4 linked regions of the Homo sapiens genome follow. The protein of the gene in region 4 purifies or fractionates together with the protein of the main gene of each other region. This does not show direct contact. Each region holds a gene or a part of one and is shown on either strand. Other genes may lie near its edges.

What was found.
Region 1: the proteins of MILR1 (region 4) and UQCC1 purify together in Homo sapiens (affinity purification with mass spectrometry; one large-scale study listed by BioGRID and IntAct). This does not show direct contact.
Region 2: the proteins of MILR1 (region 4) and SBNO1 purify together in Homo sapiens (affinity purification with mass spectrometry; one large-scale study listed by BioGRID and IntAct). This does not show direct contact.
Region 3: the proteins of MILR1 (region 4) and RYK purify together in Homo sapiens (affinity purification with mass spectrometry; 2 studies listed by BioGRID and IntAct, with this or other methods). This does not show direct contact.

Annotation. Positions count from the first base shown.
Region 1 is NC_000020.11:35,401,974-35,405,473, forward strand, and holds part of UQCC1 (ubiquinol-cytochrome c reductase complex assembly factor 1), read right to left. Parts: intron 1-3,500. UniProt on the Homo sapiens protein: Required for the assembly of the ubiquinol-cytochrome c reductase complex (mitochondrial respiratory chain complex III or cytochrome b-c1 complex). Involved in cytochrome b translation and/or stability.
Region 2 is NC_000012.12:123,362,048-123,366,328, forward strand, and holds the start of SBNO1 (protein strawberry notch homolog 1), read right to left. Parts: upstream 2,801-4,281; 5' UTR 2,654-2,800; intron 1-2,653. UniProt on the Homo sapiens protein: Plays a crucial role in the regulation of neural stem cells (NSCs) proliferation. Enhances the phosphorylation of GSK3B through the PI3K-Akt signaling pathway, thereby upregulating the Wnt/beta-catenin signaling pathway and promoting the proliferation of NSCs.
Region 3 is NC_000003.12:134,209,360-134,212,859, forward strand, and holds part of RYK (tyrosine-protein kinase RYK isoform 2 precursor), read right to left. Parts: intron 2,249-3,500; coding exon 2,149-2,248; intron 471-2,148; coding exon 336-470; intron 1-335. UniProt on the Homo sapiens protein: May be a coreceptor along with FZD8 of Wnt proteins, such as WNT1, WNT3, WNT3A and WNT5A. Involved in neuron differentiation, axon guidance, corpus callosum establishment and neurite outgrowth.
Region 4 is NC_000017.11:64,452,115-64,455,614, reverse strand, and holds part of MILR1 (allergin-1 isoform Allergin-1L precursor), read right to left. Parts: intron 3,019-3,500; coding exon 2,749-3,018; intron 1-2,748. UniProt on the Homo sapiens protein: Immunoglobulin-like receptor which plays an inhibitory role in degranulation of mast cells. Negatively regulates IgE-mediated mast cell activation and suppresses the type I immediate hypersensitivity reaction.

The sequences.
Region 1 (3,500 bases), on a different chromosome or scaffold from region 4:
TAAGTCACCACTGGTGCCTATATTCCAAATGCCATGGATACTAACTCAATTCCGGAGTCCAAAGAACAGATACTACGGTAACAAACTTTCCTTCCAGTTACAATGTGGCATGCTATAATACAAAAGGATATTTCCACAGAGGGAAGAAGAGAATGTTTAACCATTCCTTCAAAAATTACTGAATACAGGCCGGGCATAGTGGCTCACGCCTGTAATCCCAACACTTTGTGAGGCTGAGGTGGGTGGATCACTTGAGGTCAGGAGTTCGAGACCAGCCTGGCCAACACAGTGAAACCCGTCTGTACTAAAAAATACATAATATAGGCCGGGCGCGGTGGCTTACGCCTGTAATCCCAGCACTCTGGGAGGCCGAGGCAGGCAGATCACGAGGTCAGGAGATTGAAACCATCCTGGCTAACATGGTGAAACCCCGTCTCTACTAAAAATACAAAAAATTAGCCGGGTGTGGTGGTGGGCGCCTGTAGTCCCAGCTACTCGGGAGGCTGAGGCAGGAGAATGGCGTGAACCTGGGAGGCGGAGCTTGCAGTGAGCTGAGATCGCACCACTGCACTCTAGCCTGGGCGACAGAGCGAGACTCCATCTCAAAAAACAAACAAACAAACAAACAAACAAACAAACAAAATATATATATATATATAATATATATAAATTAGCCGGGCATGGTGGCGCATGCTGGTAATCCCAGCTACTCAGGAGGCTGAGGCACAAGGATCGCTTGAACCCGGGAGGCGGAGGTTGCAGTAGGCAGAGATCATGCTGCTGTACTCCAGCCTGGGTGACAGAGTGAGACCCCATCTCAAACAATAACAAAAAATTACTCCAGTACTTTGGGAGGCCGAGGCAGGCGGACTGCCTGAGCTCAGGAGTTTGCAACCAGCCTGGGCAACACAGTGAAACCCCATCTCTACTAAAATACAAAAAAATTAGCTGGGCATGAGGGCATGCACCTGCAGTCCCAGCTACTTGGGAGGCTGAGGCAGGAGAATTGCTTGAACCCGGGAGGCGGAGGTTGCAGTGACCTGAGATCGCGCCATTGCACTCCAGCCTAGGGGACAAGAGCGAGACTTCGTCTCAAAAAAAAAAAAAAAAATTACCTATACACTGCCTCCTCCCACTTTTTTGGGAGTTTTCAATCTGAGCTTTCAAAAGATTGATTACATACAGGAAAGATTTGAATAAATCAATAAATACATTAAGGGTGAGGGGTCAGGTTTCTATCAGAGAAAGGAGTTAACAAATATGGCAAGGCAAAAGAGTAGAACAAACCCTGTGGTATTAGAATAGATTAGAATAACTGGTGTGGGCTTTTAATATATAAAGAAAAAGATATATGCATGTTTATGTGTATATATAGACATATATATATTTCCTACCCACGTCCTGGTAGGGCCTGCAGATGACACTCCAGTAGCAATAAGCACATGTAGCACCCAGATGTGGTTTCTAAATAGCAACAACCACTAAAGGAACTAGTCTCCTCAGGAGACAAGTTGACTCCAGAATGGGGATGATGTTCATCAAAGCCTTACAAAGAACTGGCATTATTCCCAGACATCCCATTACTGGGTATATGCCCGAAGGATTATAAATCATGCTGCTATAAAGACACACACACACGTATGTTTACTGAGGCACTATTCACAATAGCAAAGACTTGGAACCAACCCAAATGCCCAACAATGATAGACTGGATTAAGAAAATGTGGCACATATACACCATGGAATACTATGCAGCCATAAAAAAGGATGAGTTCATATCCTTTGTAGGGACATGGATGAAGCTGGAAACCATCATTCTCAGCAAACTATCACAAGGACAGAAAACCAAACACTGCATGTTCTCACTCAGAGGTGGGAATTGAACAATGAGAACACTTGGACACAGGAAGGGGAACATCACACACCAGGGCCTGTCGTGGGGTGGGGGGAGCGGGGAGGGATAGCATTAAGAGATATACCTAGGCCGGGCGTGGTGGCTCATGCCTGTAATCCAAGCACTTTGGGAGGCCGAGGAGGGCGGATCACAAGGTCAGGAGATCGAGACCATCCTGGCTAACATGGTGAAACCCCATCTCTACTAAAAATACAAAAAATTAGCCAGGCGTGGCCGGGCGCAGTGGCTCACGCTTGTAATCCCAGCACTTTGGGAAGCCGAGGCGGGCGGATCACGAGGTCAGGAGATCGAGACCACGGTGAAATGCCGTCTCTACTAAAAATACAAAAAATTAGCCAGGCGTGGTGGCGGGTGCCTGTAGTCCCAGCTACTCGGAGAGGCTGAGGCAGGAGAATGGCGTGAACCCAGGAGGCGGAGTTTGCAGTGAGCCGAGATTGCACCACTGCACTCCAGCCTGGGTGACAGAGCGAGACTCCGTCTCAAAAAAAAAAAAAAAACAAAATTAGCCGGGCATGGTGGCAGGCGCCTGTAGTCCCAGCTACTCGGGAGGCTGAGGCAGGAGAATGGCGTGAACCCGGGAGGTGGAGCTTGCAGTGAGCTGAGATTGCGCCAGTGCACTCCAGCCTGGGTGACAAAGCAAGACTCCATCTCAAAAAAAAAAGAGATATACCTAATGTAAATGATGAGTTAATGGGTGCAGCACACCATCATGGCACATGTATACATATGTAACAAACCTGCACGTTGTGCACATGTACCCTAGAACTTAAAGTATAAAAAAAAAAGAAGCTTGACTCTGAAAAAAAAAAAAAAAAAGAACTGGCATTATTCAACCTGTCTGACAGTTCCTTAGAAGGCCCTATTTCAAGGCTGTCTTAGAACTCACCCAGTGTGAAAAAACCTTTTCCCCAGGAGCACCGGTTGAAAACAAATAGAGGTAACTGTTTGACTTCATGGCTTCCTGAGGCAGTGATTAACAGGTGGAGAAAACAACAGGCTAACCAAAAAGGTTTAAAGGAAAAGCTGGGGAATAAGATGTCCACAGAGGCTTAGAAAAGCCCCAATATATTCCTGGGCATCTAGGAAGCCATGAACATACCCAGGTCTGTGCATATACCCAAAGCTGTGCACATGCTCAGGAAAGACCTAAGAATGTCTCTTACTTGTGGTTGACCTTGAGGTTCTGCATAGCAGGAAGTGAAAGTTAAGGCAGAGTTATCGAATGCCTGGCAGAGTGTTATAGGTACATCCCAACGTGCACACAGAGCCCCAAAGCAAAAACTGGGATACTCACTGCTTCCAGGCAGTGAGAACAGAATTTTAAGAAATTTAACAGAAATTTAAAGAAATTTGTTTAATCATTACCTGACCACTAAGCTATCTAAGCAGAGACTTCAGTAGCCACAAACAACAAAGAATACAGACTACAGAATCAATTCAGAAAAGTCACTAAACAAAAATACAACAGCAAACCCTGGGAAGGGAAACAATCTGATTTCCGGAGTGGCCACATTATTTAAAATGTCCAGTTTTCAACAACAAAAAGTTATAAAACATGCAAAGAAACAATAAAGTATGGCCCATA
Region 2 (4,281 bases), on a different chromosome or scaffold from region 4:
ATAACCGTTTTAACCCAGGAGGCAGAGGAATGCAGTGAGCCAAGGTTATGACACCGCACTCCAGCCTGGGCGAGAGAGCGAGACTCCACCTCAAAAAAAAAAGATTCTGTTGGGCGTGGTGGCTCACGCCTGCAATCCCAGCACTTTGGGAGGCCGAGGCAAGCGGATCACGAGGTCAGGAGATCGAGACTATCCTGGCTAACATGGTGAAACCCCGTCTCTACTAAAAGTACAAAAAATTAGCCGGGCGTGGCAGCGGGCACCTGTAATCCCAGCTACTTGGGAGGCTGAGGCAGGAGAATGGCGTGAACCCGGGAGGCGGAGCTTGCAGTGAGCAGAGATCGTGCCACTGCACTCCAGCCTGGGCCACTGAGCGAGACTCCGTCTCAAAAAAAAAAAAAAAAAAAAAAAAAAAAAAAAAGGATTCTGACGGGGGGGCCAAGGGCGGTGGCTCACGGCTGTAATTCCAGCACTCCGGGAGACAGAGGTGAGTGGATCACTTGAGGTCACTAGTGTGAGACCAGCCTGGCCGACATGGTGAAACCCCTTTCTGCCAACTACATAAAAAAAAATTAGCCAGGTGTGGTGGCACATGCCTGCAATCCCAGCTACTAGGGAGACTGAGGCAGGAGAATTGTTTGAACCCTGAAGGCAGAGGTTGCAGTGAGCCGAGTTCATACCACTACACTCCAGCCTGGGCAACACAGCAAGACTCCGCCTCAAAAAAAAAAAAAAAAAAAAAAAAGATTCTGAAGGGGCCAGGCACAATGGCTCATGCCTGTAATCCCACCACTTCGGGAAGCGGAGGCCAGAAGATTGCTTGAGGCCAGTAGCTGCCTCCCAACATGGTGAGACCCCCGCCTCTCAACAAAAAAATTAAAAAAAAAAAAATTAGCTGCTGTAGTGGTGCACATCTGTAGTCCCAGCTACTCCGGAGGCTGAAGTGGGACGATCGCTTGAGCCCAGGAGTTCAAGCTGCAGTGAGCTATGACCACGTCACTGCACTTCAGCTTGAGCAACAGAGTGGGACCCTGTCTCAAAAATTTAAAAATAGCATAAATATTCCAAACGCAATTATATGGAATAAGTTGGAATGGAAGATAAAAAGCAGAAGCCAGAGAAAAAAAGTAAAGTCGTCTCCCATCGGAAAAATTTTGGAAACAACTTCTTTAAAAGATGAGAGAAAATGTTCCCTTGCTTGCAAAATTAATGTCCCACTCAAGTCACCAGTAGGAAATTCTGCTATCTTCTGTGCAACGATGATAGCTTTCCCTACGCTTATGAAAATCAATTCTGATTGCTAGAAAATATGGTGGAAAATAGAATCCCTCTGTACTGTCAGCTCGCAGAATTATCTGAAAGTGTTAAGTCAATTCCTGCTAGGGCACTCCGGATGACAGTTCTCTGCACCCTTCTGGATGACTCTTTAGAAACCATATTCCATCCCTAATTCTGGCTGTCTAGAATATATGAAACATTTAACTCAACATAAAATGATAATAGCCAACTTTCAAAGGTCAAAGGGGACCAGTTTATAACCTTCCCTCAACACGTGTTCAGTACAAACTTCCGGGTGCACTTACAATTGGCTGCGCAATTCAATGGATAAAAACGTTGCTTTATTTGTCTCTCATTTTCTGGCCCGTTCTTTTCCCACGTTTCTCAACCAGCGACTCCCCAAAACAAAAGCCTCCCACAGTAAACCGAGCACGCACATAAAAAGAGCTTCTCTGTGCGAGGATCAAGTTAGTGGTCCGCAAACATTAACCAAACAGAAGCACAAAGCAGGGGTGGGAAGGGGAGGAGCTGGATGCCAGGGTCAGGAAAGAAACAATCAGAAGGGTTTAGGAACATCCAAATCTCCTCAGCGGTTAAACCGACCCCAAACCACTTCTGGGAAACCACCGGTATCCACTGCTTTGGGGAACTCTGGATGCTCGTTATGCCAAACGCTCTCAAAGTAAGCAAATCCCCAACTGCCGTTCCCCTCCATGGGTAATTCTTAGGGTCTGGGAGGTGAGCTCGCCCGCCGAGGCAGAACTAAGCGAGTCGCCTGGAGAGGCGTGAAGGGAGCCTGCACGTGTCCCCCGCGGCTTCCCCACCGCCCCAAGAGCGGGGCATGTACGAGACCGCGCTGTGGGGTTCAGATTTAGGAAGGACGACCGCGTCGCCTGCCTCCCTCCCTCGCCCAGAGCCGGGAGCAATGCTGGGGCACGAAAGAGGACTTGGGAAGGATCCGGTCCTTACTTTCCCCGCGGGTCCCGGACCCGCAGCCCCCGGGTTGTGAGGCGGAAGCCAAAGGGGCGAACCCAGCGGAGCCGGCGTGCACAGACCCTGCCCCGCGGTCCAAGAGGGGTGCCTCCGGCCCGGGACAGCGGGGCTCCCGGAGCCCGAAAGCCCCACGAGCGGCGACAGCGGGGCCCGGCGCTGACGAACAGAGGAAGCGAGTACAACGGAGCCGCCGTCGGGAACATGCCCCCGAGGGCCCCGGAGCGCGCGGCCGCGAGGAGCGGCAAGCGGCGAGGGAGGCCCCAAGCCGGGGCGAGGTGGCTGTCCCCCCAGCCTGGCCCCGCACGGCCCCCCGAGGGTGGGAGTGGGAGGCTGTCCGGGAGGGGGAGTGTGGAAGGAGAAAAGGGCCAAGGGAAGGACTTACTTTCCCCGCGGGACCCGGCGCCAGCACAGCTCCTCCCGGGAGGTGTGAGTTTGAAGGACCAGAGGCGACTGGAGCGGAGGCGGCGGTGGCGGCGGCAGCAGCGGCGTCCTGCTCTGCCTACCTCCCCGCCGCCATCTTGACGCCCCTCCCCCAGCCCCCCCGCCCCGCCGGGAGGGGCGGGGGAGGGGCAACGGATGAGGCGCCGCGCGCACGCAGCGCCCTCACGTGACTTCCTCCCTCCTCCCCCACCCGCCTCTCTGCGCCCCTCTCCGCCCCGCCTCCCTCCTAGGTGAAGGAAGATGATTTCCCCCCCATCTTGACCACCCCCCAGTCTTCGCCGCCAAAAACGGACTCCGCCGGCTATCCTCGGCCCGGTACCAGTTGTTGGATCCAAGAGAATTCCGGAACCCAAACGGTCCATTACCGCGGCTCTGGGGTGGGCGAGGGGTGAGGGGGCCGGGTTTCCGCGAAGGGGGAGGGGGAAGGCGAAGGCCACCTAGGAGAGTCACGTGACTACTGTTTCCGCCGGCGCTCACGGAGAGCTCGCGGTAATTCCGTTTCCCCGCCCTTTTTTCCCCGCGGCCTGTCGGGAAGAAGGTCCGCGTGCCAGGGCTATCGGGAGGTCGGCCGGAGGGCCGCGCGCATGCGCCCCGCGCCTGCTTTCAAACTCCGGTTAGGAAGGGCCTGGAGCTATTTTCAGAACCTGTTAGGGTGGGGAGCTACGGCCCAGGAAGTTACCTAGCAGCGTTTCTGTCACTTGGAAGATCTCTTCATTACCTAGTTAGTCCTAGAAACAAAATGTTTACATATTCATTGCTTGTTAGGCTCGCTCAAAGCACTTTATTGGCAGTGAAACCGCAAGTAACCCGGAGCCCTCGGCGCGACCACGGCTAGAATCAGAGCCTAAGGCGTGTGAGCTCAGCCATCCCACGTCTGTCTTCACGCTCATACGCAAGCCCGACACACCGGGGCTCCCACTTAATGAATACTGAAGAGTAGGGCTGTCCCTACCGCTTCTCACTTCCTTGTTTTCATCTTTTCGTTATTATTAAGCGACCTAACACAATAAACATATTACCTTGTTGGTAACCCTTTTGTAAAGTCATTCTGAAAGTGCTGTTTGACTCCGTTGCTTGGGTAATAAGCACGCCTGGGTGATTCTTGCCCCCTACTGGCTGCGCATCCTACAAGCCTAGTGCTGAAAGCAAACCAAGTAGCTGGAACAGTTGGAGGTTACAGTGTGAACTCTTCCAGAGACAAAGTATTCGGGGAAAGAAAGGAAAAAGTAGGCACAGAAAGAATAGGAAACTTCAGTGTTTGTACACATAGATATGTATTATATATCTATGTATACATTTATAAATATTTTTAAAGTGCTAACTAATCGCTTTACTAATTACATTATTTCATTTAATCCTCTCACACACATAGAAAAAAAACCTATAAAGACAAAAATAAAAAATATTTTAGGCCGGGCGCAGTGGCTCACGCCTGTAATCCCAGCACTTCGGGAGGCCGAGGTGGGCGGACCACCTGAGGTCAGGAGTTCGAGACCAGCCTGGCCAACATGGTGAAACCCCATCTCTGCTAAAAATACAAAATTTAGCTGGGGCTTGGTGGCGGGCACC
Region 3 (3,500 bases), on a different chromosome or scaffold from region 4:
GATAAGGGAAACACAGTTAACATAGTTACTCAGAAGTCCCAACAGATTTTTCTTATTTCTTTACCTCTTCAACCATTTTAGCACTATTCCTAATGGAAAACATCTTAGCAATTCTGACAAAAGATTTGAGAAAGCATGGACTGAATGAGGCCTGAGTGAGATTCTTGGCTACCAACCATCTGGGATTATCTCAAAACTTCACCTGCCAGTGCTCTTTTCTCACTTGCAACTATAATCATGAGTTGGACATACTTAAATCTGTGAAAAAACAACAAACTCTATTTTTCACCTTCTCACATACATGTAAAACATATTTTGGTAAATAAATTCCTTACTTTTGTAGCACATTTTCCTTCGTTTAAAATTTAAGACGGTAAAATTTTTTGAAGAATTTACTGTCAAGTTGAGCTGCATTAGTATCATAACTTCAGAATCTACTTTGCCAGTACAGGAAAGCTCTACCCGAAACACTGTTTAAAAAAGATAAGAAAAATATTTTACATTTTCTAAAAATCAACATTAATGCCCCAAAATGATTCTTTTAAACATTTTAGAATTACTTATTTTTGCTGCAAGAAAACTAAAAGTAATACATTTAAATAAAGTAACTAAACAAAAGTTTTTAGAGATCTTCAGACTACCACACCTCTAGACATTAAGCATTTAATTCATTATGGATATAAAAGTTAGTATTAAAGAACAAACCAAGACATCAATGAAGAGATAATTGTTTTCAACTTCTGCTCATTGTTTTTAATACACCACTTTGTCTCATAAGTCCTGCTATTCCAGTACACTAAAACTGAAGGATCATAAGGCAAACCTTAACAGACACATCAGCAATAGTAACAACAGAAATTACATGATCAAATGGAAAGACAACTCACTACCAAAATGCAAGTATGTCTGCTCTTAATAAAAAGATTAAATATAAACCTGTAAATGAATCTGATAAATTGTCAGCTATCACCTTTCTCAACAGAAATTGATTTTAATCCATAATTGTAACAATGGGATAACAGACTTCAGTGCATATAATTTTTTTCCCCAATCTTTAAGATTCTTTTCCTACAAATTTAAAACCTATCATTCTACCATCTGTATGACTGCATTAAAGATATGGGCATTTCTAAATTCCTTTACTGCCCATAAAAATTTAAGCAGCCCTCCTGTGCTTTATTTAAGCTTAATGTATGTCACTGATAACAGTGAATATGACTGCCAGAAAAAGTTTCACAACACTATTGTGGCTGATACTTTCAATTTTTAAAAATATCCATTTCTTACAAATACCACAACTTCAAGAGCCTAAGAAGTTAGCTCAAAAGCAGTTAAATTGGTGTAAATAATACACTTATTCATTTACTCAGACTGTACTGAGTGCCTATCCTGCACCATACTCTATGCTATGCATCAAGGGAATTGCTAGATATGTAATCAGTGCAAAAACAGTTAAATATAAGGTTCTAAGGGGTAGGAAGAATAGAAGTTAACAAATGAAAGAAGAGAAGGTGGCAGAAAAAAGACAGTGCAGATCTTGAGTCTTGCAGAATGAGTAGGATGAATAGAAAGGAGTTCACGAGCAGAAAGAGGAAAAGATGATCCCAAATACTGAGACCAGCACATGCAAAGGCTTGAAGATCAGAACTGCATGTAGTCTGGAACTGCTACAACTCTGGGGCAAGTGCAGCAACAAGGCTAGACAGGCAGGCAGGGGCAGATGGTAAAGGATCCAGGACACAAGGTGGTGAGTCTGGAATGTTCAGTTGATGGGAGTGGAGAGCACTGATGGGCTTCACGTCACAGGGTCAAACATGACCGTGCAAAGATCATCTGGGCCACAGGGTGAAATGTGGTGCCTAATCAAAGGGAAACAAGATCAGGCACAGGGACTCATGTGGAGGTAAGTACCAGCAATGCAGAAAAAGAGACAGGGAGGGCGGAGCACAGAGAGTTCCAGAAGGACAGAAAAGAGAGAATGGTTTAAGAACACAGTGCAAATATTTACAAAAATTACTTTTCACAGTACTCATACATCTTATGCCTATCAAGTAATACACACTACACATCAGTAAACTTCTGTTTTGGGGCCATAGGGGATGCAGTTGAAAAAGTATGTTAACTCTGTCTTTGAAGACTCTTACTTACCTGATAAAGTGCGTGGAACTTCCCCCTGAACAGAAATGTTGACCTGGGGCATATCCATTGCCAAAACATTGTCCACTTGGAATCCCAGCTTATATTCAACCTGTAAAATAGACAAAAATAAACAAAATGGACCTGTGATAACAAGAAGGATACTATCAGCTTGACTTCATTAATTGGCTCATTAATCAATGGATGAGCCTTTCATATGTACAAATAATCTAGCTATAAAAAAATGCAAATTGTCAGAAACAGTCCTAAGAATTTTCAATTGGATAAAAATTCAACCAAGTAAGCCACCCTCTATTTTAAGTCCACAACAGGACCACCACTCTTCCATAAAACCTGCCATCTAGGGTCAGAAATCCTGCTGAGAACTATGCAGCACTGACAGAGAGGCCATGGAGAGCCAGATATGAAGAACCAAAGCGGTGAGATATGTAACTGACAGACCATAAATAGCTACCAATGCCTTCTCTGGTTGATAAATGAAAGCCAAGCTCGGAGGGCCTCCTTGTGGCTGGTGGAGGAAGGTCTGCTCTGCAGACCCACTCACACAATAAGCAGATTCCAAGGTAGATTTCTCATAGAATATCTAAGTCACATCCTCTAGTCTTGCTCTCACCAAAAAGAAAGTTCATGTTTAGATCCCCATTTGACCTCTGGATCTACTTCTTAAGTGATTCAGAATCCAGAAGGGAAGACAGGCAACCCATGAGATGTCTCTAAAACACCAATGTTATCTATCAATACTTGGCCTACCCAATGTGGCTTAACAGAACCAATCAGCATCAATAATTAAGGCTCTGTTGCTATGGAGAGTTCATGAAAGAAGCAGCTCAAACTGCAAAGCAATAGCTGAAATTCAGAATGGCTGCCAGCATCAAGACTTTCAATGAAGCCCTACAGTTCACATCACTCTCTGCCCTGCCCACAGGTTCTTGATAACTATGGTATCCCTCTCTCATTCAGTGGTCACAAAAGGTATCATTGGTGGCAGACTGAGATTTGCAGAGCCACGAGGCAGCAGGTTGGGAAAAGAGTGAGAAGAAAGATGTTCGATAAACCATTCTTCAAGAAACTTAACTAGAAGAATGGGAGACAGATGGTGAAGTGGGGGGTGTTCCAAAGCTTTTCTTTGTTTTTAGATGAGATATTCAAATATGTATATATGCTAGTGAAAAAAGCTAACGAAATGGTACATAATAAAGATGAAAGAAAAGAGGGAAAGAGTATCATCCCAGATATAAGGGAAGGGATGGCCCTTACGCTTGGGCTAAGGTGGAAGGCGTTGTTACCCATGAATAAGAAGGGCTCAGTCCAGAATTTGATTCCCCTTGGGGTTTCTCCTTTCA
Region 4 (3,500 bases):
AGGCGTGGTGGCAGGCGCCTGTAGTCCCACCTACTCGGGAGGCTGAGGCAGGAGAATTGTGTGAACCCGGGAGGCAGAGCTTGCAGTGAGCCGAGATGGTGCCACTGCACTCCAGCCTGAGTGACAGAGCAAGATCCATCTCAAAAAAAAAATTTTTTTTTGATGAGTGAATCAGTGATTAATGAATTTGTGTTTATGGCTCATAGTTTCAACCCTTACTGGGTTGGAGACAACACTATGTTTTAGGCCTCATTAAAAACCCAGTAGTACAATTGCTTGCATGGAGTAGGTACTCCGTAGTGCCTATTGATCTGGCCTAACTGAAGATGATACAGTTTTATAATCTACCAAGATAGTTTTATTACCAGACTGTGTAATTACCCTAACAAATTGCAGGAAGGTCGTGCACAAAAAACATATGAACTGATGGGCTTATTGCTGAGTGCAGCAGGAGTCTGACCACTAGAGAATACCATCAGCTGTGTTCCTGCCCTCACATATCCATCGTATTCCAGTACCATGTTTGCAGGGATTTTCCCCCTCCTTCTTCCTTTTCCTTTCACAAGGAATATACTCAGTTTATGTCCAAAGATCATTGGGATTTTTTTTTTCTTGAGACAGGGTCTCTCTCTGTCACCCAGGCTGCAGTGCAGTGGTGCAATCACAGCTCACTGCAGCCTTGAACTCCTGGGCTGAGGCAATCCTCCCAACTCAGCCTCCTGAGTAGTTGGCACTATAGGCACGCCACCACGCTCAGCTACATATATATATTTTTTAACTTTTTGTAGACACACAGTCTCCACATAGTTCCCAGGCTGGTCTCAAACTCCTGGGCTCAGGTGATCCTCCCGCCTCAGCCTCACAAAGTGCTGGGATTACACCTGTGAGACAGCGCACCTGGCCAAGATAATTGGTTCTAACCTGGAGTCCGTAGCATTCTCTAAAACCTTATGCAGAAATTTGTATACGTAGTTTTATGAGCATTTCTCTGGAGAAGATATTCATTGCTATCATTGGATTATTAAGACAGTTATAACCTAAAAAGCTAAGAATCACTGAGCTACAGCAATGTCACCCAGTAGAACTTTCTGTGATGATGGGAATGGTCTACATCTGTGTTGTCCAATGTGGCAGCCACCAGCTACAGGTGTGGCTATCAAAGCCTTGAAATGTAACTGAGACTGTGGAGGGAAATTTTTTATTTCATCTAATTTTAATTGACTTGATTTTAATTATGGCACGTGCTTGTAATCCAAGCTATTCAGGATGCTGAGGTGGGAGGATCTCTTAAGAACAGGAGTTTGAGGCTGCAATGGGCTTTGATTGCCTGTGAGTAGCCTCTGCACTCCAGCCTGGGTGACATAGGCTATTAAATAAATAAACGTTGGCCAGGAGCAGTGGCACACGCCTGTAATCCCAGCACTTTGGGAGGCTGAGGTGGGTGGATCACCTGAGGTCAGGAGTTAAGACCAGCCTGGTCAACATGGTGAAACCCCATCTCTATTAAAAATACAAAAATTAGCTGGGCATGGTGGTGCATGCCTGTAATCCTAGCTACTCGGGAGGCTGAGGTGGGAGAATTGCTTGAACTCGAAAGGCGGAGGTTGAAGTGAGCTGAGATCGCACCACTGCACTCCAGCCTGGGTGACAGGGCGAGACTCCATCTCAAAAAAAGAAAAAAAGAAATAAAATAAAACAAAATAAACAAATAAGTTTAAACAGTACCGTACTGGATAGCATAGACATAGAGGACCACTCAAGAGTTATCAGGAAGTCAGGGTCCCTACGCTTTGAAGACTCCAGGTATAACATACATGTGTTACCTAGAAGCCTTCTCTCCTCCCACAGGAGTCCATTATCAAGGTCACCTTCACGGATGAGGCCCTTAATGCTAGGCAGTAACAGGCTTGGGGTAGGAAAATGGGACAGAAAAACACAGAAGTAGTGAGATGTGGCTAGGCAGGAAGAGTGCTAGCGGATGGGGCCCCTGACACTAAGGAAGCGGTGGGAAAGGCGTGAGGCTTTGAAGACCCTCTCCAAGGGGCCCAAGGCTTCAGAAAAAAAAAAAAAAAAAAAAAGCGATTTTTGCCCACACAATGGGAATCACAGAATAAAGTTTCTAGAAAAGACCTCCACAATTATTGTTGAGATATAAGACTTTTGCCTAAAGATATAAGACTATTATCTGACATGGTCGAAAGTCTTTGAAAGAGAAGGTGAAACGGAATGATTAAGAATAGAGAACTCACTGGGCATGGTGGCTTACATCTGTAATCCCAGCATTTTGGGAGGCTGAGGCAGGCGGATCACCTGAGGTCAGGAGTTCGAGACCAGCCTGACCAACATGGTGAAACCTCGTCTCAAGTAAAAATACAAAAATTAGCCAGGCGTGGTGATGGGTGCCTGTAATCCCAGCTACTTGGGAGGCTGAGGCAGGAGAATGCCTTGAACCCAGGAGGTGGAGTTTGCAGTGGACCATGATTTCACCACTGTACTCCAGCCTGGGCAACTGAGTGAGACTCTGTTTCAAAAAAAAAAAAAAGAATAGAGATCTCAAAAATTAAAAAATTAAAAGATACTTCCTGTTGACCAGGTCTAAAAATAAATAAAAAATAAAAAAAGAATAAAGCTCGCAGTAACATACTTTCCAGGTTCTTAAGTGTTCACAAGGATCATGGAGAGCCCCTCATAGAACCAGAAAGCACCCTATAAATTATAGGGGCTCCAAGGAACAGGCACTCTACTTACCGACAATCGTGAAGCTGAAGTCACGACTGTATTTTGAACAGCTGGTAACTTGGGCTTTGCATTTGTAGGGGCCTGATTCATGGGCTTCTGTGATGCTTAGGTTAAAAATCGCAGGTTCACCTTTTCCATCCTGGGTTCCCAGGTGTGTCTTACGTCGAAACAATGAATAGGTGATCTGCAGTGATTTGTTCTTATGGGAACAAAACATAGATACATTTTGACCCTTCATAACCACCTTAGTCTTTGAGTCCAAACATGGAGAAGGGAATTCTGAAAAACAAAATGACACAAGAAAAAGTCCTTCTTAAGATCCTGGCCGGGCAAGGTGGTTCACGCCTGTAATCCCAGCACTTTGGGCGGCCGAGGCAGGTGGATCACTTGAGGCCATGAGTTTGATACCAGTCTGGGCAACATGGCAAAACCCTGTCTCTACTAAAAATACAAAAATTAGCTGGCATGGTGGTGGGCACCTGTAATCCCAGCTACTCAGGAGGCTGAGGCAGGAGAATTGCTTGAACTAGGGAGGCGGAGGTTGCAGTGAGCCAAGATCATGCCACTGCACTCCAGGCTGGGTGACAGAGTGAGACTACCTCAAAAAATAAAAATAATAATAAATAAAAAGTTCTTGAAGTTGGGTGTGGTGGTTGACGCCTATAATCCTAGCACTTTGGGAGGCTGTGGTGGGAGGGTCACTTGAGGTCAGGAGTTCGAGAACAGCCTGGGCAACAAGTGAGACCTCGTCTCTAATTTTT